Linked DNA regions of Homo sapiens: all the other regions are reported to be linked to region 3. The links are microRNA targets in miRTarBase. Many come from high-throughput screens and were not tested one by one. Region 3 holds a microRNA gene; each other region holds the end of a gene's coding sequence.
The links. The annotated mature microRNA hsa-miR-3678-3p reads CUGCAGAGUUUGUACGGACCGG and lies in region 3 at 1,765-1,786, opposite strand. An mRNA with a match to its seed (bases 2 to 7 or 8) in the 3' UTR can be bound and repressed. Matches are read on the target gene's strand: a 7mer-m8 pairs with bases 2 to 8, a 7mer-A1 pairs with bases 2 to 7 and ends in A, and an 8mer does both.

Region 1 (4,089 bases), not on the chromosome of region 3:
CTGCACAGATGGTTTTATTAATCCCACTCCCTTCGGCACAAAACCCTACTCCCCGAGAAGTCTCCTGGCAGCACAAGGGCCCTGATTTTTCCCTGTGCCTCCCCCCGCCCCCAGCGCCTGACCCCAACCCCACTCCTCCCCTGCTGCCCCCTTCAAAGGAAGCGGAGTTCCAACTGCAACCCAGACATGAACTCCAACCTGAAAATCATTTTACACCACCCCTTTCATCCAACCGCATCTGGGAAAGGCATCTAGGGGACCCTCTTCCCAATACCCACCTTGACCTTTGGAGACTTTACCTGGGAAGGAAGATCATTATCAGGAAGTTGGTTTAGGAATGTCTGGTCCATTCTTTTTTTGGAGGGGACAGAGTCTCGCTCTGTAGCCCAGGCTGGAGTGCAGTGGTGCGATCTCGGCTCACTGCAGCCTCCGCCTCTCAGGTTCATGCCATTCTCCTGCCTTAGCCTCCTGAGCAGCTGGGACTACAGGCACGCACCACCATGCCCAGCTAATTTTTGTATTTTTAGTAGAGATGGGGTTTCACCATGTTGGCCAGGATGGTCTCGATCTCTTGACCTTGTGATCCGCCCGCCTCGGCCTCCCAAAGTGCTGGGATTACAGGCGTGAGCCACCGCGCCCGAGCATCTGGTCCATTCTTAGAGACAAAGTCGCAACCCAGAAACTGCCATTTTCCAGAAATGCAGGAGCTTTTAAAGCATTTGTTTGCACACTCGCTAAGACTCCAGGTCCTGTTCGGAAAGCCTCATCTTACCCTTGCTATCCTCCTGTGAGATAGGTACTACACTACAGTGACTGCTGTTTTCCGGAGGCTCGTCCAAGGCCACAAAGCCAGTATTTGAATCCAGGTCTGACTCAGGAGCGCATGCGCTCCTCATTGGGCCAACCCACCGACACCATGGAATAATTTCCCTCTACCCAGCAACTTTGCAAAACAGCTGACACTGTCACAAATAGTGGTGTGCAAACTCTCTTAGGCAAGGTCACCTAGGGAGTTGAGGAAATGCATATTCCTGGGCCTGGCCCTAGAAGTGTTGACTTGGTACATCTCAGGTGGGGCCCTGGAATCTGCATTTTCACAACCCCCCTCCCAGATGCTGCTGATGTGTGTGGTCTGAGGATAGCTGGTCAGGAGGCTCTTAGAGAAAGGAACATGGGTCTTTGGGCCCAGGGATCTTGGGCCCTCAGGCCAGGCACTTTTCACGGCACTATCAGGTCCCAACACGCCTTCAGAATGAAGCGTCCCCACCGCAAGCTTAATGTGCTCTTGCTAATTCTTTGGAAACTAGCCGTGACACGTGATCACATCTTAGTAAATTTCTTGACTGTCATTTTATCACCCATTGATCCCCTAAATAAGCCAGAGTTTCCTGTCCTTTCTGTCGGGGGCTCTGCCCACATGGCTAGCAGAACAAGTTCACTCTGCAACAGTTCAGCAAACATCACCGTGCACTCAGCCCCAGGGGACACAAAGACGAATGAAGGACCTGCTCCTTCCCCTAGAGCCTGGACTCTGAGGACGCCCACAATGGCTCACACTCTGCTCCTAAAAAGCCCACGGTCAACTCAAGTTCTACAACCCCACAAACCAACCTGATGCGCTCACGAAGGCACAGAATCACTGTCTGTTAGACTTGGCAAGTTTCTGCAGCTTGGGCTGCCAGGCTGAGGAACTTCTGAAATGGGGATGAGGCTGTTCTGGGGTCCTCCCTCCAGGACTCTCCTTCTCCTTCTCTGTCTGGGGCTTTGCCTGGCATCCCACCCTCTGCCAAGGGGTGGTAGGGAGTCAGCCCATCATCTGCTGAAAACTGTGGGCCGTGGAGCTGGCTGGACCCAGGAGGGGTCAGCTATGTCTCTTTCCCCTCCCCCGAGGCACAAACGAGGAATTCAAAAATGGTTTGATATTTTAACAAACGTTCCTTTATTAGGTTACTGACTATTATCAACCATCATAAAATAGAACGGGAGTTTCAAAACTGTACAAGCCACAAGGCTCTGGGCTGGTAGGAAAGAAGGGTGGGGTCGAGGGTCCCAGGGTGTCGGGGGGTGGGAGATGCAGAGAGAGCTAGAGGGTCACCCGGCATCTGTGAGGACGGCTGGGTCAAGGCCATAAGCTGGGATCTGTACAAGGGAAACATTCATCAGAATGTGACCCACCTGAAACAGGAGGGAGGAAAATCTTTAAAAGTCTTACAGGTAAGGTCCCCTGCCCCGAAAAAAAAAACCGTCAAAATAATAAGGGGGTAATGTACATTTCTCACCCAGTCTTGGCACCAATTTTGTGCTTTAAAAAATATACTCCACTGTAAGATTTACTTAAAAAAAGGTACTCTACAGCAGCTGTTTAAAACATAATTCTTACAGACAAATATATATATATGTATGTATATATATTAAACATTTTAAACAAATAAAGTCATCTATTGTACCTGTGCAGAAATGAACCAAAGTTAGACTCTAAGAGAGTTAACTTCAAGCTCAAAGAAATGGCAAAGGCGGTGGCAGGTGCTGGGGTACGCTACGTGGAGGGGTTGCCAGGGATAGGGCACCCCTCTCTTCCGGCAGCCGAGCTACCCCTCTTGAGGCTCTGAGAGGGGTTGGGATGAACTGGGGCTGTTACCCTGGGTCCAGAGCCCCGGCTGGGGTGCTGAGCAGAGACCCGCGCTGGCTTCTGTGAGGCTCGACTCTGCTCCTGGTCTTCCCCATCCCACCCTGCCCCCGGCTTCTCGGGGAATGGAGACCCACTCGCCCTCCCTTCTTAGTTCTGGGGGTCCTCTGGCACACCCAGAGCTTCTGAGGATGCACTTGGGAAATCTCAGCTAGAAAAGCAAAAGCAAAATCAAACCCACATCAAAAGACCCACAGAAGACTAAAGAAATGCAACCCTGTGCAAGGGTGCCTGAGCCCAAGAGTTAGCTGGTTACCTGGAGACACAGGGGAATTGCTGCAGCCCTTCCAGACGGGCCCCCGAAGACACCCAGATTGCACGTGAGGCTATTTCTCCCTGAGGGGCCCGCTAGGGAACTTGGAGCAGAGCCCCCTGGAAACTGCAGGGCAAGGGACCCAGAGACATACTTGTGCCTGGGCACGTGTGCACATGTGCCCAGGGAGGGCGGGCGAGGCATACATATCCCAGGGAGGGCACAGGTGGAAGGAAAGTAACAGAACAGCCAGAGAGAGGGGACTGAAACAGGGTTTCCTTTCTAGATGGAATAAATAAATGGCTTTTGTTATTGTTAAAAGAATAAATACAGGGTACGGGGCACCGGCAGCCAGGATGGGTGCTGGGTGCTTATTTGCCTGCAGACAGTTCTTGGTTTCTGCCTTGGGGTCCATGGTGAGTTTTTGACGTCCTGAGCTTTATCTGCCATGGCATGGCCCCGCTGGGCACCCTGGGCCGGGCACCAGCCCTTGTCTAAGCACCTCTTAGTACCCCTGGTATCTGCTCTCAGAGCTGTGGTACCACCTGCCACCCCCACCACCCTGGGACCCCCAGGTGGCTGCAGCCTTCTCCCAGAGGTGTGGGAAGCACCCGTCCCACCCCGAGCAGATTGGAGCTCAATGTAGGGCTTTCGTAGGAGTTTATTCTCTGTGTCTTTTTTCAAAGAGGGGTTGTATACGGACGGCATGCAGGGATGCTGCCTTCTGCTGATGTCGGGAAGGGGGAAAGAGGAGCCTGTGTTGGAATCGGTCCTTGTCCCATGGAGGCAGCCACGGAGGATGAGGGAAGACCAGGGACCTCTGTCCATGGCTACGGATGCCGGTCCAAGGTGCAGGGTGCGGCGGCCCCAGCGGCAGGCGGCTCAGTGAGTTGGCACCAGGTGGCTGTCGCGCTGGCGGTATGATGGCGAACGTCACTGGTAGAGGAGGTAGGCCTTGAGGGAAGCCGGCAGCGGCAGCGTGTGGATCTCCCCCAGGCGCTCCCTCCCCAGGGCCAGGCGCACCGAGCGACGGCACAAATCCATGAGCGGCAGCGGCTCGGCTGGGGAGACAGAGAAACTGCAGGTCAGCGCAGCTTGGGTGGGTGTTCAGCAAACAGCGCTAACCACAGCAGCAATATTATCACTGATT
Region 2 (4,105 bases), not on the chromosome of region 3:
AAAAGGAAATACACAATGAAAGCTCCTGAATCATGAAAGAACAGATTTCATAATTATACTCTGCTGCCTTAGTGGAATTTAGAAAAAATTTTTTGTAATGTTTTACAAAAAATTATATTGTACCACTTTTGGATTCATTGAGAAGTGAATAATATAGCTATAATTTATCTTTAAAATGTTTGTATTCATCCAAATATAATAAATACATAGAAATAATCAGCCCAAATGTTGTCTGGCATACACTGTAAGGGTTACAGCTGTGTGGGGAAAAAAGGGTTTAAGTCTAGGGCAGGATGTTGTTAGAATTAACCCCTGCTCCTCAGCACCACCATTCAGAAGTTCCAAGTGCTGGAAATAAATATTCATGCTTCCTCCCAAGTGTGATGTGCATACATTGTGGATCATTCACTTTCTTCTTCTAATAGTGGTACTCATACTTTTAGGGCCGAGAAAGAAAATCTGCTTAGGAATAGCAAACATGGCAGGTTTTGGCTGTTAATCTTTTGTGGCAAAGAAGGTTAAGAGAAGCAAAGTGATTTCGTTTTTTTTTTTTTATTTTTATTTGAGATGGAGTCTCACCCAGTTGCCCAGGCTGGAGTGCAATGGCACAATCTCGGCTCACTGCAACCTCTGCCTCCCAGGTTCAAGTGATTCTCCTGCCTCGGCCTCTGGAGTAGCTATGATTACAGGTGCCTGCCACCACACCTGGCTACTTTTTGTATTTTTAGTAGAGATGTGGTTTCACCATGTTGGCCAGGCTGGTCTCCAACTCCTGACCTCAGGTGATCCGCCTGCCTTGGCCTCCCAAAGTGCTGGGATTACAGGCGTGAGCCACCGCGCCCGACCTGCAAAGTGATTTCTGTGCAGCAGAGAAAACTGACCCAACAATCCTCCTAGGCAGAATGAAGCAGTTATTAAAACATTTAGCTAGCTCCTTAGCCTTTCACGTTGCTTAAACAGGCACTCACTCAAAAGATTAGATCATAAAAATATAATGCTTGCAAGACTGTAAGTAAGCACCCCCCTTATTTATTATCAGACCAGGTGCACCAAGACCATTTATTTGCTTATGTCTTTACTGATGGTTCTGTCAAACTACAACTCCAGAGTTATAAGGTTGCCTCTCATTACAGAAGTGTCAATTAGATTTAAGACAATTTTACTTTTCTTTAAAGATACAGCATTTAAAAAATACTCCAAATTGAGTTATGCCAAAGTTTCTAACACTTGTGCGTGTAACTTGTTACAAAATTCCCAGAAAACGTAAGAGCCACACACATTTTTCCCCTCCAGAAATAGCTTGCATTTATAAACAATATATATCACTTGCTGACATGCAAGACCCCTAAATTTGGTACAAAAGCCAAGAAAAAACTCCATGGATTTTCATCTTGCATAGACAGAATGAGGTATTAAAAATGCTTCTGCAGGTCCTTTCAAAGAATTGTTAGTTCATGGTACATCTCACAGTTAGTTCTGAGCTCTGGGTTTCAGAATCATGTCACACTAACAGCATTTACTACCAACCTTCCCTATTAACTTGATTCAACTCCAATTACCTCTTTGCTTTTCTGCTTTTATCAAGGAGGATGCTGCCAGTCTGCATCTAACAGAGCGCTTCTTTCAGAGCTCTTAGAACCCTGCTGTAAGTACATCTCAGATACTAACGGCATCTGACAATACCACTAGTGTTTAAACTGGAAGGTAGGAGGTTCTTGCTCCCAAAGTGCTTAGCATAGTGCCCAGCAAACACTAGGTTCTCCCAAAAAACATCTTCTGACCACACTGTCATCTGAAATTCTGCAGGTGTGCCATGATTTTAACATGTTTCTTTTCTGCAAGTGTAGTAATAAAGTGTAGTAATAATTTAAATTAAAAAAAGCCTACATTGCTCTAGCTGATTGGCATCAGTACATGAATCGGCTTTGCAGATGCTACATAAGAAAGCAGAAAGGGGTTGTCTTGACACACTTTTTACTCCAATTCCCATTTTTTTCTCCCAAGGAATACAGGCTATAAAGCTCCAAATATTACCACACATTACAAGAGCCCACAGGTATTCATCCACTGAACACAAGGACTGCGCAGGTGGAGTCATTTAATATGCTGCTTTGCTAGATTCGGAAGCCTCCGGGCAATGGTGTTGTGCTGCAAACGTAAAATATATTTGAAGGGCATCTGCTAACAAGGAAACCATCTGTATGTAATCCATTCTATTTTCTATTCCATTTCAGATTTAGTTTTAATAAAGTAATACAAATCATTTAAAGAAAAAACCTTTAATTTAAAATTCTGATCTATGCATAAAATTCATTTTTATATCACGGTTAAATTTAGTACAAACTATAAAAATGTTAACACTGAAGTTTTCAACAGAAGTCTATTAAGATGCCTTAGAAAAATTAAACAACAGCAAGTCATTTACTGCTATGAGGTTAATACATAAAGAAACATTCACACATTTTACTGAAATTTTCAGTAAATAACTTTAGCCATAACACTTATAATTAAAAGTTCAAAAGTTGTGTGTGGCTCTACAGCAATTATAATTTGCAATGAAAACACTAAGCCAAATCTTTTTGAGCTGATCAGAACAATCTTAGCTACAAAATTGGCTGAAATTTGCAAACCTTAAAAAGAACACCAATTGTGAATGGAATAGGTATCATAACTTAGCTTAAAGTGGAAGATGGTAAAAACTCGATGCTTAAGTCTGAATTGCACAAGGAAAATATTAGGGGAAAAAACACTCAGCTATTACTGATAGCTATTACTTTAAAAAAATATTAGATCATTCTTATATTAAAAACATGAAATGAATCCAAGCCAGACAGTACTGAGTTTTTACACAAGCCTCTTTTGTATTCAATGTTGTTTATTGAGGAGTGAATGAGAGACTACTGCCAGACATGCCAATGACACTTCACATTCAAGGGCTGGAAGCTGGAAAGCTTCCCGACTGAGTCACTGTATAAGCCTTCTGGGAAAAAGAACCAAAGTGACATCAAATATGCCATCTTCATGCTTGTTGTCTGTCATCAGTTTTTTTCAACTTTTGGGTCTACTGGTTTGCTGGGTAGGAGGCTTCTTTCTACCCTACAGAAAGACTCACACTCCCAATTCACAATGAACACTGAATGCAGAGCAATTTGTGTGAACACACATCTACGCTGAGTAACTGTTCTTAAAGCTGTTTTTCCTTAAATTTCCTTATGTCTAACGAGAAAAATTAATTTGATTTCCCTTTCCCCTTCAGGTGGGCGGGTTATACCAATAGAAAAATAGTCTTCAGTGCTAGCTACCGCAGGGCTTCCAGGAACTCCTTCAGTGGTCTGGTAGAAATCCATGGAAACTCCATTCTGCAACACAGCGCTGCTCTTCCTGCTTGTGGCTCTCCAGAAGAATGGCCTACACACAACACTACCGATCTCTTTTGCTCAAAAACAAAACAAAGAAACCTAAAGGAAAGGGTAAGCGTTTATTTGGAGTTAGTTTTCTGGTGGGTGACATTAAGGCCCTTCACGCAGAGTTCAGGAGCTCCTGAATGGCGGCCTGCTGCTCAGGACTGAGCTGTGCTATGCACTCAGTCCACAGTCCTCCAGAAGTCTAGGGAAAGAAACATTTTCACAGACTTAGGACGAAATGCTCATTTGGAAGGATTTTAATCATCATCATAGGTAAACTGTAATCATGGCAAAATACCTTCTCCCTAGGTACATTATTTTGATGAGTATCATTGTAAAAGCAAGAAATCTGTTCATTTTTTTAAAGTTCATTTCATTTCCAGTAAGTTTTCTTCATTTTTGCACTGAAAAAGCTACACTAAGCAGGTAACATCTTAAAGTAACCCATATACCACATGAATATAGGAAGTAAAAATCATATAAAGTTTTTTGGCAGATGACAAGTTATTATTAAATCTTGTTTTTTTTTCTTAAGATAGGCAGAAAAACTACACATAAGCTTGTGTTAAGCACCAACTGGTAAGCTCAAAATGTCCTAAGATGAAGGTTTTAATTCTAATAAATAATAAGTACATACGGATGGATTACATTAAGTATAATCCATTTGAGGCTTGGAGACAAGAGACTATGAAAATATAAAA
Region 3 (4,000 bases):
AAATTACTAACCTCTCTAAGGCTTAGTTTCCAAGTCTGTAAAATGGGGATATTACCCACCCTGTGGAGGCGCTATGACTTAAGTATGCATCAAGTGGTAAATAGAGGGTCCTTTTCTTATTTTCACCTCATATCAGACACCTCCTGCTCAGAAACCTTCAGAGGTTGCCCATCACTTGACTATGACACCTAAGCCATGCATTTTGCATTTTGGCCCCTCTCTCTCATCACTCTTCCCCCCAATTACTGGGGCTTGGACTAATCAAAAACATTGGTTGATGGCCAGGAGTGTTGGCTCACATCTGTAATCCCAGCACTTTGAGAGGCTGAGGCAGGTGGATCACCTGAGGTCAGGAGTTCGAGACCAGCCTGGCCAACATGGCGAAACCCTGTCTCTATTAAAAATACAAAAATTAGCTGGGTGTGGTGGCAGGCTGCTGTAATCTCAGCTACTTGAGAGGCTGAGGTGAGAGAATGCTTGAACCCAGGAGGCGGAAGTTGCAGTGAGCCAAAATCATGCCACTGCACTCCACTCCAGCCTGGGCAACAGTGCAAGTCTCAAAAAAAAAAAAAAAACCAAAAAAACAGGCATGGTGGCTCACGCCTGTAATCCCAGCACTTTGGGAGGCCAAGGTGGGCGGATCACCTGAGGTCAGGAGTTTGAGACCAGCCTGACCAACATGGAGAAACCCCATCTCTACTAGAAATACAAAATTAGCTGGGTGTGGTGGCACATGCCTGTAATCCCAGCTACTCGGGAGGCTGAGGCAGGAGAATCCCTTGAACCCGGGAGGCGGAGCTTGCGGTGAGCCAAGATCGCGCACCATTGCACTCCAGCCTGGGCAACAAGAGCAAAACTCCGTCTCAAAAAAAAAAAAAAAAAAAAAAAACAAAAGGCTGATTCCATTACTCTTTCCTCTTTCCTCCCTGCTTTCACTTTGCCGTTCAAACCAAATCCTTCTTGATTAGCTCAGCACCAAGTACTGGCTCCCTCCTCAGCCATCCCTATGTGTAGTTCAGTGGCACTTGGGGCCAACTGCTTGTCTTACAGATTAGGCAACTCTAGATTACAAAGCACTGAAAGCAGGGGCTTCATCTGGTTGGTCTTTGACCCTGCAGAGCCCCTTGCACACAGGTGATGCTCAATAAATACTTGGTGAAAGCACAATTCATTTTCTGTGTTTCAATGGGCTTCTTTTCTCTATAGAATCAGATGCTTGGTTATTCTCACCTCAGCGCTATTTTGTTGGCTTCCAGAAGGCACAGTAACGCTAGGTGTGTTGTGTTCTATCCTTTAATTGGAAGAGCTTTGGGAACTGAAAAATAAGAATTATTTCTCCAAGCCTCATCTTCTGCCACTCCCCCGTACTCACCGGCCTCATACAGGAATTGAACTACTTAGCACTGCACAGAACACGACTTTCTCTCTCACGCCTCCGTTCCTCTGTACTTAGCCTCTGTACTTACGTGCCATTCCCTTTCCCTGAAATGCCCTTACTCTGGCTTCTCTGCCTGGCAAATTCCTACTCATCCTCCAAGACTCAGATCAGACATCGCCGCATCACATCTGTGAAGGCTCTTCTGCAATGGGCAGTGTAGCAGTACCCCCTCCATTTTTTTAGCTTCCTCAGCAAACTCCAAATAATTATAACAGTACTTATGGCATTATTTGTTTATTTTTCTTCTACTTCCTAGACCGTGAATTCCTTAAGGGCCAAGATTTCTGTTCTATCCCCAGCACAGTGTTCGGCCTATATTGGAGAATCCGGTCCGTACAAACTCTGCAGTGATTCAATCAATGAGCAAACAAACTCACCAATCATTCAACACAGCAGAGTTTGTACGGACCGGATTCTCAAATATTTTAAGACCTGGTCCTCTATTTGGAGTGCTTCATTCTGGAAGATCTCTTCCTCCCCCAAGCCCCTACCCATCCAACTGCCTAGGTTTGGTAGAAGAGGAAAATAAAGTGATTAGACGGGGGAAGAGTCCTTCAGGGCTAAGCTGTCATTTACCCGCTCTGGCACCGAGAGGGTTACGGCGACCCGGGGGCGGAGCCGTGCGGAGGCCACCTGCTGCGGGGAGGTCTGGCGCATGCGCCCTGACACCTAGCTGGTTCCCTACCCGCAGGGGCCCGGCTGAGGAGGAGCGCTTGCGCTCTGGGCCTTTTCCGCCGGGGGAAGTCTCGCGGGGGCGGGGCGGGGCCTCGTGGAGAAGTTCTCGCGGGACACCGACGGGGAGCGGAAGCCAGGAGGTATTGCTGCTTCGGCGACCGGGCGGCGGCAGCGGCGGCGGCGGCTGTGGCAGAGTCTGTGCCTGTGGCGGTGACGGCGGCGGGAGCAAGCGCTGCCCTCGCAGAGCAGCCTTGGGGTCGCCGGCCGCTCGCAGCGTTGTGGAGGGGCGGGCCGGACGCTGAGCGGAGCAGCTGCGCCACGGTGAGTACGGGAGGCTGCGCTCGGCGCCTCTCTCGTGCCTTTTCCTCTTGGCTCTACAGCGGGAGTGGGCCCCGGGGGAACCGGGACCGGCCCCGGGGTTCGCGTCGGGGCGGCGAGGCTTGGGACGTGGAGCGCAATCCCCGGGGCTCCGGACTCTACGTTTCCCCTTTTGGGGCGCTTCCTTCCTGGGGACCGTCCTCCTCCGGCTCTTGGCTCTGGGCAGTCCGGGGGAAGAGGTCGGGGTTCTCTGGCGAGGTCCCCTGCCTTCATCGGGAGGGTTTGCACGGAAGGGGCCCGGGAAGCCCAGGCGGGCCGAACGCCGACCGAGTCAGTCTACCCGAGCCTGGCGGCGGGGGACTGGTGTGGGCTGCAGCTGTGGTGATTGATGTGCCTTCGACCTGCACGGCAACCACGTCACCATCTCCTGGCGTCTTTGGGCTTAATTTTGTGCGGGAATCCACTTTGGGGTGGAACGTTTGCTGCTGGAGCCGGGGGAGATACCTTTATTCTGACACTTAAAAAAAAAAACTATTTGAAAAATATTTGTCAAGAAAAATTCAGCAGTAGCAGGTTGGACTGCACCGAGGAAGGATTGCGGCGAGAGCGGGCGCTGGTAATTTTCATTTGCAGCGCGCCCTCTCTATGATTGTAAGCCACACATGAGTTATGGCTTGTTTAGAAAGTTTTTCAAGGCTGGCTTCAAACGCTGTGAAAGTGCAGTTTGCAGGGGACTGAAGTGCACTTGAGGTCTGTCTCTTTTTGATGCTGTTGACTTTCCGAAATGTCAGACACATGAGAGAAATTAGCATTAGTCTATTTTGGCTTTCTTACTCCTCTTTCTCCAGTTATTTCCTTCCTTCTCTATCTGCTTCTGTCCTTTCCACTAGGGACACGAAATGCTTGTGTAATGCAAGTCATTTGCCCCTTCCTCCCCCCACCCCCCCCTTTTTTTCTAATGTACTTCCCCTTCCTCCTTGTAGTCCCCACTCTGGCGTAATTTTTCGAGGTTTCTTCCCTTTCGTGCTGTTCGTTTTCTCTCATTTCAAGATTCCGTCTTTTTCCTCGGGAAGAGACTCTCTTTCCTTGCTTTCGTTCCTTTACTTTTGCGCGTCCCCTGCGTTCCCTGCAGTCAGCCAGAAGGGTTGCTAGAGAGCCGTGGGAGGCTGAAGTCCCCTCTCTGAGAACGGGGAGGCTCAAAAGATTGAATTCATCCCTAAGAAATCAGTCCTGCCACTAGGTCGCAAGTGTGGTTTGCTTGTATTATTTTTGTCTTTTACTCTTTTTCTTTTAAGATTATGCTTCTGTGCCTGCTTATGTTTTCTTCTAGTATGTCTTTATAATAGGAAGATTGGGTCAGCTCAGTGACTTTTTTTTTTTAGGCAGAGTTTTGCTCTTTTTGCCCAGGCTGGAGTGCAATGGTGCTATATGGGCTCACTGCAACTCTGCCTCCTGGGTTCAAGCGATTCTCCTGCCTCAGCCTCCCGAGTAGCTGGGATCACAGGCGCCCACCACCATGTCCAGCGAATTTTGTATTTTTAGTAGAGATGGGGTTTCACTGTGTTGCCC
Region 4 (4,105 bases), not on the chromosome of region 3:
CTAGGAATCTGAGTCTTTAACAAACATTCCTATATATATTGAAATTTGAGAAGCACTGTTTAGCCTTCTTTACAAGATGGAAAGCAAAATAGCTTTTGTTTTTTTTTTTTTTTGAGACAGGGTCTTGCTTTGTCACCCAGGCTGAAGTGTTGTGGTGCTGTCATGGCTTACTGTGATCTCTGCCTCCTGGGCTCGAGTGATCCTCCACCTTAGCCTCCTGAGTAGCTGGGACTACAGGCAAGCGCCTCCATGCCTGGCTAATTTTGTATTTTTTGTAGAGATGGTGTTTCACCATGTTGCTTAGGCTGGTCTCGGACTCCTGGGCTCAAGTGATCTGCCTGCCTCGGCCTAAAATAGCTTTTTTGTTGTTGATATTTTGTGTTTTATATTTAGAAACCTAGAAGAGAGATATTTTACTTGTTATAAAAATGTTTACCATATTCTCTGTTTTCTCTTTTGCCTATTTAATGACTTCTGTTTTCCAGATTTTTCTTCTGGTTCAAAGCAGGAAATGGCGTGATGGCCTTTGTTCCAAAACAGTGGAATACCATCGCCTAGATCAGAATGTTAATGAGGCAATGCCTTCTTTGAAGATTACCAATGATTATATTTTTTAAAGCACTGTGATTTGAATTTGCTTATGTAATTTTATTTGCTTGACTTTTTATATGATATTGTGCAAATGTTTGCCATAGGCAATTGGTACTTAAATGAGAGGTGAGTCTCTCTTTTGCCTTGGTGCTTTGGAAATTAAATGTCACAAACGAGTATATAATTTTTTATCTGTACTTTTAGAGCTGAGTTTAATCAGGTGTCCAAAATGTGAGTTAAACATTACCTTATATTTACACTGTTAGTTTTTATTGTTTTAGATTTATTATGCTTCTTCTGGAAGTATTAGTGATGCTACTTTTAAAAGATCCCAAACTTGTAACTAAATTCTGACATATCTGTTACTGCTGACTCACATTCATTCTCCGCCATTCAAATACTATTTTTTATCCACATTTTTTTTTGTTCCCAAACTGTAATGTACAAGGATATGTGTGATAATGCTTTGGATTTGAGTAATATTTTTTTTTCTTCCAAGAAAACTGCTTTGGATATTTTTAGATAATTTAAACATAATTTAGGATAATGATATTGCTCAATCTGACCACAATTTTAGGTAAAACATTAAATGTGTCAAGAAATCTTGGCAACAGAGACTCTGCAGCTTGCAGTGGACATAGATAAAATGTTACAGAGATACTATTTTTTTGGTTGGAATTACTATATTAAATTTAGAAGCAGAAACTGGTAAAATGTTAAATACATGTACAATTGCTTTTAGTTAGCAATTGATTGTAGCATGGGTTCCTCCAAGGTTTCAAGCAATGGGCAGAGTTTAAAATTATATCAGATTCGTTTACTTCGTTTATTATTTTACAGTAAATTTGAATAAATCTTAGGGGTCATTATCACTTAAATAATACTGTACCTAGGTCTTTCAAATTAAAATTATACCTGAATGAAGTTGTTTGTATACATAAAGGATATTTGTGTACAATTACCTTTTTTCCCCCACACTTGTTTTCTTTGTTTTTGTTTTTTATGGCAACTGGAAAGTATTTACTATGGGATTCATTTATGTCTGTCTTTCTATCATAAAGAATTGATCAATATGTAAATATGTGATTTGAACCATGGTTGACTTACAAGTGTCACTACAGCTTTTTAGAAAACATAGCCCTAATATATGTTAAGCAGGACCCGGGTGAGCCAGTGGGCTTGCGCTTTATGTAGAGCTGGAAGAAGGCCGTCCATCCTGTCTCTTGGGCGGACAGTGTACTTTCCTAATAGGGAAGGGAAGCACAATGGAAATACCCCTGAACCGTTTTATTGCAGTAATTTTTTTCATATCTGAAACTATTATTTAATATTTTGAATAAGATTTTAAAAAATAAATGGCAAAGATATAAATCTATGATTTCACGAGTGTGTTTCTGTGTTTCATTTCAGTGATGACATTTAGGTGGTGACGGGGAGTAGTGTATGTCTGGGAGCAATCTAACCTGATTCACTTGCAGGTGTCCCTCTCAGCAGTGCAACTCTGCCTCTATGAATTCCACTTACATTGCTAAATTCTTCTTTAGGTCCAACTTACTGCGAGGTACTGAAGTTTATTGAAAACTGTAGCAAAGTAGGATGGCAAAGAAAAGCAAAGTGGCTAAATCAGTGTGCTCTTTCTAGCATCCTGGGGTCACTATCTGGGATGGAAGGCTCCCCGAGTGTGGAGGCTCATCCCCCTTAGTGGATTGGGGGATTCTTGGGTACTTCCTGGTGGTCCAGCCACCTAGGTCACAGTGCTGCAATTAAGTAGCCTCAGACTTTTGGAGCATCAGATCATACATTGATTAAAAATGCCCCTGGAGTCTCACAGAGGCACTTGAGCACTAGGAACTAGTGCTAGGGACTAGGCACGCAGGGGCCACAGTTGAGCCTCACAACCTCATGCCACCTCCTCCTGTGTGGTGTTATCTGCTCCTTTCTCCTAGACTAGACTCACTTTCTGGTCAGACCTGAAGCTCTGCACCCGATTTTGGTACTAATGGTATAATAGATTACCTTTTAGCTCCCGTTTCTGTGTCTTAGCTGAAAAGGAATGTGTTGGAACTTGTGGGGCAGACAGAAACAGACATTTAGAATTTGGGCAGTCAGGCAGGCATGTTATATTAGTCTGTTCTCACATTGCTATAGAAATACCCGAGACTGGATAATTTATAAAGAAAAGAAGTTTAATTGGCTCACTGTTTTGCAGGCTGTGGAGGGAGCATGATGCTGGCATCTGCTCAGCTTCTGGGGAGGTTTCAGGAAGCTTACCATCATTGTGAAAGACGAAAGGGGAGCAGTTGTCTCACATGACAGGAACAGGAGCAAGAGAGAGTAAGGGGGAATGTACTACACAGTTTCTTTTTTTTTTTTTTTTTTTTTTTTTTTTGAGACAGTCTCGCTCTTTCACCAAGGCTGTAGTGCAGTGGTGCAGTCTTGGCTCATTGCAGCCTCCACCTCCTGAGTTCAAGTGATTCTCCTGACTCATCCTCCTGAGTAGCTGGGACTACAGGCACCTGCCACCACTCCCAGCTAATTTTTGTATTTTGTATTTTATTTTATTTTTTAGTAGAGGTGGGGTTTTACCATGTTGGCCAGGCTGGTCTTGAACTCATGACCTCAAATGATCCACCCGCCTCGGCCTCCCAAAGTGTTGGGATTACAGGCATGAGCCACTGTGCCTGGCCTTACTATACACTTTTAAATCACCAGATCTCATGAGAACTCATTATCATGAGAACAGCACCAAGGGAGATGGTGTTAAACCATGAGAAAACCACCCCCATGATCCAGTCATCTCCCACCAGGCCCCACCTCCAACACTGGGGACTTCAATTCGACGTGAAGTTTGGGCAGGACACAGGTCTAAACCATACCACATACCTTGACTGGGCTTTCTTGATTTTAAATGTGATCTCCTGAGCGTGAGTGCAAGCTCTTGCGGAATGTGTGGTTTGCCCCACCGAGTGAGTTGCTTGAGAACAGGAACTGGCTCTTACTGCTCTCCAGCCCCAAGCTCATTACCTGGCACCTGCTAGGCCCCTTTAAATTGTTATTCAATGAAGTATTTGAGAAATTAGATGAGGAGAAAACCAAGACAACTCAGGCTCTGCACAAGATCACATAGTCTGCATAGAGTCCAATACTACTAACGTCCTGGGTACACAGATGAATGCGGGATCAGAGCCGAGTACAGCGTGTCAGTCCTTATGTGCACATCCACAATTCTACGGGAAGCTAAAGCCCACAATAGTTGTATGAGATATCACCCCTTCCTCCAAATCCCAGGTTCTCATCAGAGCAGGTGCTGCCTGTTGAAGGTGAAGGAGATCACTGCCGGCACTGCTGCCGATGTTCCAGTTCTCCCCCATCCTGTGTGTGGGGTGGGGTGAGCAGGGCTGGCTTTGCCCTTTGGCCTTCTTTCAGCCTGGTTTGCTGGTGCAGCAGTTTGCCTCCCTTCTGGGTTCAGTGTGAAGCAGTTCATCCTTCCCAGCTGAAGTTCAAAAGGTTAAAA
Region 5 (4,102 bases), not on the chromosome of region 3:
GGAGAAGATGTGAGGTAGGAGACCGCCATTTTGATTCCCTCTCCCCTCTCTTATAGGTATTGGTGACCAATCACTGCACCGTGTGTCTGGGAGTTGGGGTGCTTGTTTGCTTGTGCACGTATGTGCCAAGTGTGCTATAATGTGCTTCATGGTTGCCCTGGGAAGGTGGGGTATGAAATGTTCTAGATGTGTGATGCCCGGGTACGGACGCGAGGATGAAAAGTGTAGGAGAACAGTGTGGTGTTCGGTCTGAATGCGTCTAAGACAAAGTTGTGGCTTTGTTTCAGGCTGATCTGAAAGCGCTTCCTGGCGGAGGCTTCATGGTTTCCCATCTCAGCCACAGCCTCCCTCCATAGCCGGGCAGTTCCCCAGGAGTCCTAGGTGTGTGTCCCTGCTCCGCTCAGTGTCCCTCAGCTCTTGCCGGGCCTCTGACTCTCCCTCCTCTCTTCCAGACGCCTACCCTGTATGCATCTCTTTCACCAACTGTGCGTGGACCAGTGGCTCGCCATGAGCAAGAAATGCCCCATCTGCCGAGTGGACATTGAGACACAACTGGGAGCCGACAGCTGAGGGAGGAATTAGCCAGTGGACACCCCATTTCCTTCACCAGGTCCCCCCACGGCCATAGCCCTTGCAGCCAAACTTTGCCTTCTGAGCCATTTGACGTAGAGGAAAAGCCTGCAAGCACATTTTGTGGAAAGAGGAGTTGGTGGTATCGGTGTCGAGGGAGAGGAGGGGGTTGGGGAGGACCCACCTCTCCAGAATGGCGACTGTCCCCATCCGCCTGGCTGAGCAGGAGAGAGGGAGCTGGCGGTGCCCAGCGCAAGGGCGGGAAGGAGGGGCCCAGGCTGCGGAGAACCCAGGTGGGATCCTGAAGGCACTAGCTGACAGACGGGCCCCTCAATCCTGTCCTCTGAAGGATTGTATATATACCTCTCGACCACGTAGGAACCATGTAGGGGTCTCTAGCTATTTCTGTGGATGGCAGCCGGAGCATGTTAGCTTAAGAAAAATGTTGTGTGTGGTGCTCTAGTCATCTTGTGGTGGACATGTCGCTATTACCGAATTCGCACCAAATATTTCTCATTGAGTTTCTTGTTTTGGTGCCTGACCGAACCAACGACAGCCCCAATCTTCCCGTCTTTATGAGAGAAAAGGAAAAAGGAATCAAAGGTGGAAGAAAAAAAAAGCCAAATTCTGTTTACGGTGAAAAAGGATTTTGTTTTTCACCCAATTTGGGAGGCGGGAGGGGGGGGTTCTCGTTTTATTTTTGTTTTTGTTTTTACCTTGGCTTTTGTTTTTCTCATGTTTACAGTGCACGGAGTGTGGAAGGGGGTCTAGGAGAGGGAGAGCTGGAAAAGGAGCTGATGGGGTCTTATCCTGGCCTCTGAGGGTTCAGCGGAGGTGAGGAAGGCAGCAGAGCTCCAGCAGGTGAAGGGAGAGTTCATCTAGGCGGGGCTCCCCAGGCCCAGGGCTCAACTTCATGGCCCCAGCTATATCCCCCCAGTTCCACACTAAACCAGGGAGGGCTCGGCCCTCAGCTACTGGTACCCAATGTGTTCCTGGGAGCCGAGAGACCCATGGTCACTCCAACTCCTTCCTTTAGGCTGTGCTCTTGCCTGTCACAAAGAGGCAACGTAGCCACTGCCTCCCTATGCAAAAAATTAACCAGATGATGCAGATAAGACAGCATAGGTGATGGCTGCTTGGTCTTGGCCACAGTGCTCTCAGCCAGCACTAAGGGCTGAGGTCAATACCGCAGACCTTGGGGAGGAAGCTGAGCATCCCCCGGGATGTCTCCAGTCCTGACACAGTCCCTCAGAGATGGCCCTGGCTCTGAGGTCACATCAGCTAGGTTTGGGAGGCCCCTCAGCTTGGTTTGGGAGTGCCCGTGTTCCTGGTCTCTGGCTGCTTCTCTGACTCTTTGATAACCTTGGGCAAGTCCCTTTCTTTCTCTGTGCCTCAGTTTCCTTCTCCTTTGAGGGGGGAGAGAGAACAGTGCAGCCCCATTTCCGGTCCTGCTACCTCACCTAGATGTTGTGAGGATTCATATTCTCTGTCCAGCGTGTTCTATGCTCTCTTCTGAGAACCTTGTGGGGTGTCGGGATGGGGGTGCTGGGAGACACAGACCTGATACAGTATGTCTTTCTGCACCACCTCACAATTTTCCTGAACCCCAAAGGGAGCAGAGAGATAAGAGGACAGAAGAATGGAGATGGGAAAATCCACCAAATTCCAACCCAAACCCAACTTTCTTTCTCCCTATGTGGAAGACACCAGATTAGCTGGAATTCTGCCACCTTCCTTTGTGCCCCACCCCCCACTGTTCCCTCATTTGCACTGCTCTGTAAGCCTCCCCCTCACCTCCATTCATAACCCAGTCTCAATGCCCTCGTATCAATAAGACCGGGGTAAGGGGGACAGGATACTTGTCACATATTTGAAGAAATTCCATACAGTGAAGGAAATTTGAGTCTGTATTGCTGCTACAAGGGTAAAACCAGGACCAATGGGTAAAAGTAACAGGCGGGCAGATTTTGGCTTGAGGAAGAGCTTCTAGCACGACTGGTTCATGCGGGAATAGCTGCTCTGGCCACCTGCAGGCAGAAAGTGGGGGAAGTGGCTCCTGGCAGGAGATTTCTCCCAGCACTAATATCCTGGTGTTCTATAAAATCTTTATTGAGTGCCTACCGGTGCAGGCGCTGGGAGAGACAATAGCTTTGAGGAGCTCACAATCTAGCTGAGGAGACAAGACACATCCAATGCTGCAAAAATGGTGAATAACCTGATTCAGGGTTAGCAGCAATGAGTATCACAGCGTCCAACTCAGTAGCTCCAGTGTATGAAAATGTCTCCAGGGCTAAAGGCTGGAGATCTCACCAGTGGGGAAAGTACATCTGAGTCAGGATTTTGGGGGAAAGCTAGTTACTGATAGCCACAGGAAGTTGAGACTTCTGCCCCATTCTCTCCAATGGCTGGGTGAAAACCAAGAATTCATCGGAAGATGGCTTTGGCCTGGAGGTAGCTAGGGTGGTCTAGGAAGCTCACTCCTCTCTTAGTCTCAGTCTTTCATTCTTTCTGCTGAGACTGGCCTGAAAGGCTGGCAAGTGGGAGGGAGTCAGTGGGGAGGCCAGGATAGAACTAGAGCTGGTGTCCCAGGTTCCAGTCTGGGCTCTTCACTGACAAAGTGGGCAACACTAGAAACTTCCCTTTGTCTCTCTGGGCCTTAGTTTCCTCAGTTACAACCTAAGGAGGTTGGATTGGATGCTTGCTAATTTCCTTCTGACACTCACACTCCCTAACATCAACACATCTTCAAGGCGGCAGAGCTGTGCGCCCACCCAGCTATTGAAAAGGACTTTCTGTGGGCACACACTCTGTTTCAGACTGGGCTGGGGGCACACGTGCTGGGTGAGACAGTGGGCCCTCGTCCCCTCCCCCCTCCCAATTCTCTGCCCCAGGCTAATATTAGGGACTGGGGAGGGGACCACCAGAGGGGAGAGGGAAGCTGCTTACTTTGGGGGTAGACCCTGAAGCCCCTCCTCCTTCCCCCACAGATGGGGACAGGAGGTGATGGGGTGCTCAGAACCCTGCAGCTCCCACTTCTTTAGCCGGGCAGCTGTTTGGGGGACAAGAGAGGGCCAGGGTCTGTGCTTCTGCTCCCGGCACTGGTCAGGGAGTCTGGGAAGAGTGGAGAAGAGGCAGGGTCAGGCCTCAGCATCTCACATCCACCACCTCCAGGAGGGGAGACCACTGGTAAGTCCTCCTCCTGCTCAACTCAAGGGACTCAGACCCTTTCTTGACTGAGACGCATGAGTGCCTTCTGGGGTGAGAGCAGCCCCAGGGTTTAAGTTGGGCGTCCTAGCAGCTGCAGCAGCTGTGCCGCCGCGGGTCCACCGAGGACGCCAATCAATCAACCCAACACCACAAGCTTGGTTGGGTGCAAGCAGAGGGTGAGCAGGGGCTGCCCCTCCACCTGGCCAGGACCCCCTTCGGCACCCAGTTGCCCTTGGCCACCACCTGTGGCAGGACTCAAGCTCCTCTTCTGCAAATGTTCCCAGCCTCCGTGCAAGTATTCTTAACTCTTTACGCCTAATGAACA
Region 6 (4,105 bases), not on the chromosome of region 3:
ACAATGTGCGGAGGGGTAAGAGCCACAAGTACTACCTTGTCCTAACTCCCCTGGCTAGCGCAGACTGAGCCCAGGCAATGTCACCGGGTCTCCTGTCATCCCATCTGGCCACTCCATAGCAGGGCCGTAGATACGTTTAAACTGTCATGAATCCAGAAAAGATATTTAAGTCAACCTTTGCTTCAAGTCAACTCTCTATTGAACTATCTCGAAAAGTCTTTTTTAAAAAATGTCCGATTCTTCAACTTCATATGCTAATGTGTTCCAGTTTTTCTTTTCTTTTTCTTTCTTTCTTTTTTTTTTTAATTGCTCTTACTGTTAGGTTCTAACCTAGATGTTTGCAATCGAAGTCAAAACTCCTTGCATTCTTAGTATTCTGAGCCCCACTGGGAAGTCAGCCTTTGAGCTGGTCATGCCTCTTTGTTGTGCTGGGTCCCTCTCACTGTGATCTTGTTTCCATGCTCCTTTCTCTAGGGGCTCGCCCAGAACGTCTTCCTGTGTTTGATGAGGAGTGCTGGCAGTTGATGGAAGCCTGTTGGGATGGCGACCCCTTGAAGAGGCCTCTCTTGGGCATTGTCCAGCCCATGCTCCAGGGCATCATGAATCGGCTCTGCAAGTCCAATTCTGAGCAGCCAAACAGAGGACTAGATGATTCTACTTGAAAGCAAAGACCTTTCTCTTTCACTCTCTAGTTATTTCCTTCCCCCTCACCTTTTGGCCATGGGGAGAATTTGACATTTATTCACTATAGGACACACTCCCAAGGGAACTGGTGCTTGCTGGGAAACTTGGAACCTTCCCAGGCAGGGATGACTCCTGGACAGTGAAGAGTTGAATGACTGAGCATATTCAGCAGCTCACTGAAGCGCCAAGCTATCCCTTTAGCAAAAAAGTGTCTCAGATGTGTAAAAGCTGAGGAATGTGGTGTTCTGGCTTCACAAATGAAAAGGAGGCAGATGTTACCATTGTCTTTTCACTGTATATACTTCTAAGACAGCAAGCGGGACACTGCAGTGGCAATAGTGTTAAAAAATCTCATTCTCATGATTTTTGGCTCTAGCTAGGAATAGTTTAGTCAGGACTCAGAAAATTTGAGCTTAGTTCTGGGATTATGAAAACATGGGGACAAAAACAATAACTTGTGGATGTCTGGTTCCTGCTGTCTGCAGCCAGGTATCTCAGGTTGCAATGGTCAGAAGTCCCAGTGAGGGAGCTAGAAACAGAGCTATCTGTTCCTCATAGTGCCAGTGTGTTTACATTTATAGGACCACATATCCCTGGTTTCTGGGGGAGGGTTTCACTGTTACATCACCAAGAGGCCCTGAAAAGAGGAAAAAAAAAAAAAAAGAGGCCAGGCATGGTGGCTCACGCCTGTAATCTCAGCACTTTGGGAGGCTGAGGCGGGCGGATCACAAGGTCCAGAGTTCAAGAGCAGCCTGGCCAACATGGTGAAACCCCGTCTCTACTAAAGATACAAAAAATTAGCCGGGCGTGGTGGTGCATGCCTGTAATCCAAGATACTCAGGAGGCTGAGGCAGGAGAATCGCTTGAACCTGGGAGGCGGAGGTTGCAGTGAGCCGAGATCATGCCATTGCACTCCAGCCTGGGCGACAGAGTGAGACTCTGTCTCAAAAAAAAAAAAAAAATAGAATGTGTATGCATATATTTGTGTGTATATGTATATATGTGTGTGTGTCTATATCTCTATCTATATAGACATACACACAGGAGTTATTGGATTTAGAGTTACTGCTAACCCCAGAACAGAATCTGTTCTTTTACCTTTGAGTCTTTTCTTTTGTTTACCTCTTTTCATCTCAAAGTGGGAAAGCTCCAGATAACATGGTACTTAGGAGTGAGTGTCTAAGCAAAACCAACCCAATGCGAAGTATTTGGGTGAGAACTGAGAGGTGGGAGATGATTGGAGGCCATGGCCTATGTACAAACATACTGGAAGAAAACCAGCTTGTTTTTAAAACTTAACACAATCAGAAATTTTTCTTTTTGTGTTTGAATCTAACACACTGACGTTTGGAAAACTTGATCAATGAGCTTTTAACCACGATTTCTCCCGCAATTTGTTCCTTCTTTTTACCTTTTTAAAAATCTGTTAGAAGAAAAAAAGCAGCAGACGAAAGAGAAAAACCCTCCTCTGGTAGTTCTGTGTGTGCCCCTCACCCCTGTGTGCTAGTGTCTGGGAAGTTTCCCTGAAAGGTGGGAGGCGGGTGGGTGGTCTTTTGGAGGGTTCCTCATGAAGTGTGCTTGAGGAAAGAAATTCTGATTCTAGGCAGAGGAAGGGGAACAATTTAAATATTGGTGCATCTCAGATGCACTTGACTTCAAGCCTTCCTCAACCAAACTGGTCCATTAGATTCCGAAAAACAGGTAGACGAGGAAGTAGACAGTGGAAGTGAGTAGTCTCCCTCCATCTGCCTAATCCCCAATAACTGTGGTCTGGCCCCTGTGTTCAGCCCGAGAGTTTGTAAAACAGGTCCCCAGGTAGGTGTATAAGATGAGTTGCAAATTAGCCGGGCATGCTGGCACGCACCAGTAATCCCAGCTACTTGGGAGGCTGAGGCAGGAGAATCACTTGAACCCGGGAGGCAGAGGTCATGGTGAGCCGAGATCACGCCACTGCACTCCAGCCTGGGCAACAGAGCGAGACTCTATCTCAAAAAAAAACAAAAAAAAAAACAAAAAACAAAGATGAGTCGCACATCTGCTGCTGGGATTTTCTAGGGTTGTCTATGACAGAATGACCATCTTTTAAATATTAATGGAGTATAAATGGAGTCTATAATGGGTCTTTCATATAACTTTTAACTCTTTGGCTATCCTGGGCTCTGATCATGATATGTTTGAGCATAGTAGCTCCCTAAACTCTTGGAGCCTTTCAGAAATTCCATGTAGTGCTAATAACCTTTTTACTTGCAAATGATAAAGTAACTGACTCAGTGTCTTTGGGCTCTGCAGGCTTTAGCCTTGTTTTGGTAGGATGTTCAGTATATTCTCAGAATTTTTACCACCTATTTAGCTATACTTCAAGTACTCTATTCTCTGCACTAACTTACTGTCCTTCTGGGAACTATGATGGGGCTTCAAGGGAGTCAGGTGTCAAGAAAGGAGGGGTAAGTACTCTCTACTTGCTGGAAAATCATTGTAAGTCTGTTGTGTATGAAATTTTAGGAAAAGTCTTATATAGTTCCCTTTCCAGACTGTTTTCTTTTGACTCTAACTATAATCATAAGTCTGTGCTTCCATTATGAAGGTCACATTCCTAGCATTCTTGGGAAGTATTAGCTCATACTCTCATTCACATATGGGAGGTTAGATTTTTTTCCTCTACCCAGAGTCCCTTTTTAGTTTACCCCACGGCTTAGTTTGCTGTCAGATACCAGTTCTCTAGCAGATTCCCCAACAGTTTTTTCCCCAGTGGGGAGGGTGGAAGGGAGGGACTGATATAAGTAAGGAGATGAGTAGTTGTGTTACAGTTCATTTTCTTTAAAAAAAAGTATTTTGAGAAAAGGTGCAAAATATTCTTGAAAGTCTCTAGGCCAGCCAAAGTCCACATATGGATATTTGGGGATGTTATTTAAATACTCAGCAGGCTGAGTGCAGGTATACGTGTGTATAGAGTGTGTATACTTTGCTTTTGTTTTATAACATTGTCAGCTAATTTTGGCTTTGTTCTTTGGCATCCATTCTTATTATAAGTGATGGAATGCCATGAAATGTACTGTATTGTATATTACTTGGGAGGACACTAGGTTTTCAAAGAAGTCTGGCAGCACTTGGGTTATAGAGGGCTCAGCATGACCAAAGTCCTAAAGATTTTACCTCCCAGCTTTGGTTGTATGTGTTCCCAAGTGGTGAGGTGAGATTGTGGCTGGAGGAAGAAAAAGGATGGCATGAAAGAATGACCCTTATTGTGGTCTGTCCTTCTAATCAACATAATTAGGGCAGCTTACCCCAACATGAAAATGATGACCTGGCCATTTTTAATGGCCAGAGCTTGAAGTCTGGTCTCTCATTTTGTTTCAGAAATGAGTGAGAGGCCTTCCTGCAGAGCAGTCAGGAGAAATGGTGGAGCCTGGGGCCCTGGAAT

Region 1: the mRNA of SPSB1 is a reported target of hsa-miR-3678-3p. Seed matches in the 3' UTR shown: 7mer-m8 at 2,073-2,079.
Region 2: the mRNA of IPO5 is a reported target of hsa-miR-3678-3p. Seed matches in the 3' UTR shown: 7mer-m8 at 3,139-3,145 and 7mer-A1 at 1,926-1,932.
Region 4: the mRNA of C5orf15 is a reported target of hsa-miR-3678-3p. Seed matches in the 3' UTR shown: 7mer-m8 at 1,209-1,215.
Region 5: miRTarBase lists ARK2C as a target of hsa-miR-3678-3p. Seed matches in the 3' UTR shown: 7mer-A1 at 4,045-4,051.
Region 6: the mRNA of DSTYK is a reported target of hsa-miR-3678-3p. Seed matches in the 3' UTR shown: 7mer-m8 at 2,966-2,972 and 7mer-m8 at 3,056-3,062.

The regions. Positions count from the first base shown.
Region 1 is chr1:9,367,359-9,371,447 of GRCh38, reverse strand. It overlaps SPSB1 (splA/ryanodine receptor domain and SOCS box containing 1), which reads right to left. Exons shown (of 3, transcript NM_025106.4): 3 at 1,916-4,000. The coding sequence ends at 3,873. Among named protein-coding and RNA genes, the nearest start is that of LINC02606, 60 kb to the left of the region's middle. RefSeq lists an enhancer at 1-380.
Region 2 is chr13:98,021,237-98,025,341 of GRCh38, reverse strand. IPO5 (importin 5) reads right to left here. Exons shown (of 29, transcript NM_002271.6): 29 at 1,046-3,606. The coding sequence ends at 3,520. Among named protein-coding and RNA genes, the nearest start is that of IPO5, 70 kb to the right of the region's middle.
Region 3 is chr17:75,403,923-75,407,922 of GRCh38, reverse strand. It overlaps MIR3678 (microRNA 3678), which reads right to left and starts at 1,854; the gene lies at 1,761-1,854. GRB2 (growth factor receptor bound protein 2) reads left to right here and starts at 2,245. Exons shown (of 6, transcript NM_002086.5): 1 at 2,245-2,434. RefSeq lists a silencer at 2,008-2,187.
Region 4 is chr5:133,953,371-133,957,475 of GRCh38, reverse strand. It overlaps C5orf15 (chromosome 5 open reading frame 15), which reads left to right. Exons shown (of 3, transcript NM_020199.3): 3 at 486-1,966. The coding sequence ends at 617. It overlaps LOC105379182 (a long non-coding RNA gene), which reads left to right and starts at 3,864. Exons shown (of 5, transcript XR_948797.3): 1 at 3,864-4,105. RefSeq lists an enhancer at 1-15.
Region 5 is chr18:46,456,067-46,460,168 of GRCh38, forward strand. ARK2C (arkadia (RNF111) C-terminal like ring finger ubiquitin ligase 2C) reads left to right here. Exons shown (of 8, transcript NM_152470.3): 7 at 1-14; 8 at 453-4,102. The coding sequence ends at 570. Among named protein-coding and RNA genes, the nearest start is that of ARK2C, 120 kb to the left of the region's middle. RefSeq lists an enhancer at 2,068-2,857.
Region 6 is chr1:205,144,115-205,148,219 of GRCh38, reverse strand. It overlaps DSTYK (dual serine/threonine and tyrosine protein kinase), which reads left to right. Exons shown (of 13, transcript NM_015375.3): 12 at 1-15; 13 at 475-4,105. The coding sequence ends at 662. Among named protein-coding and RNA genes, the nearest start is that of RBBP5, 24 kb to the right of the region's middle.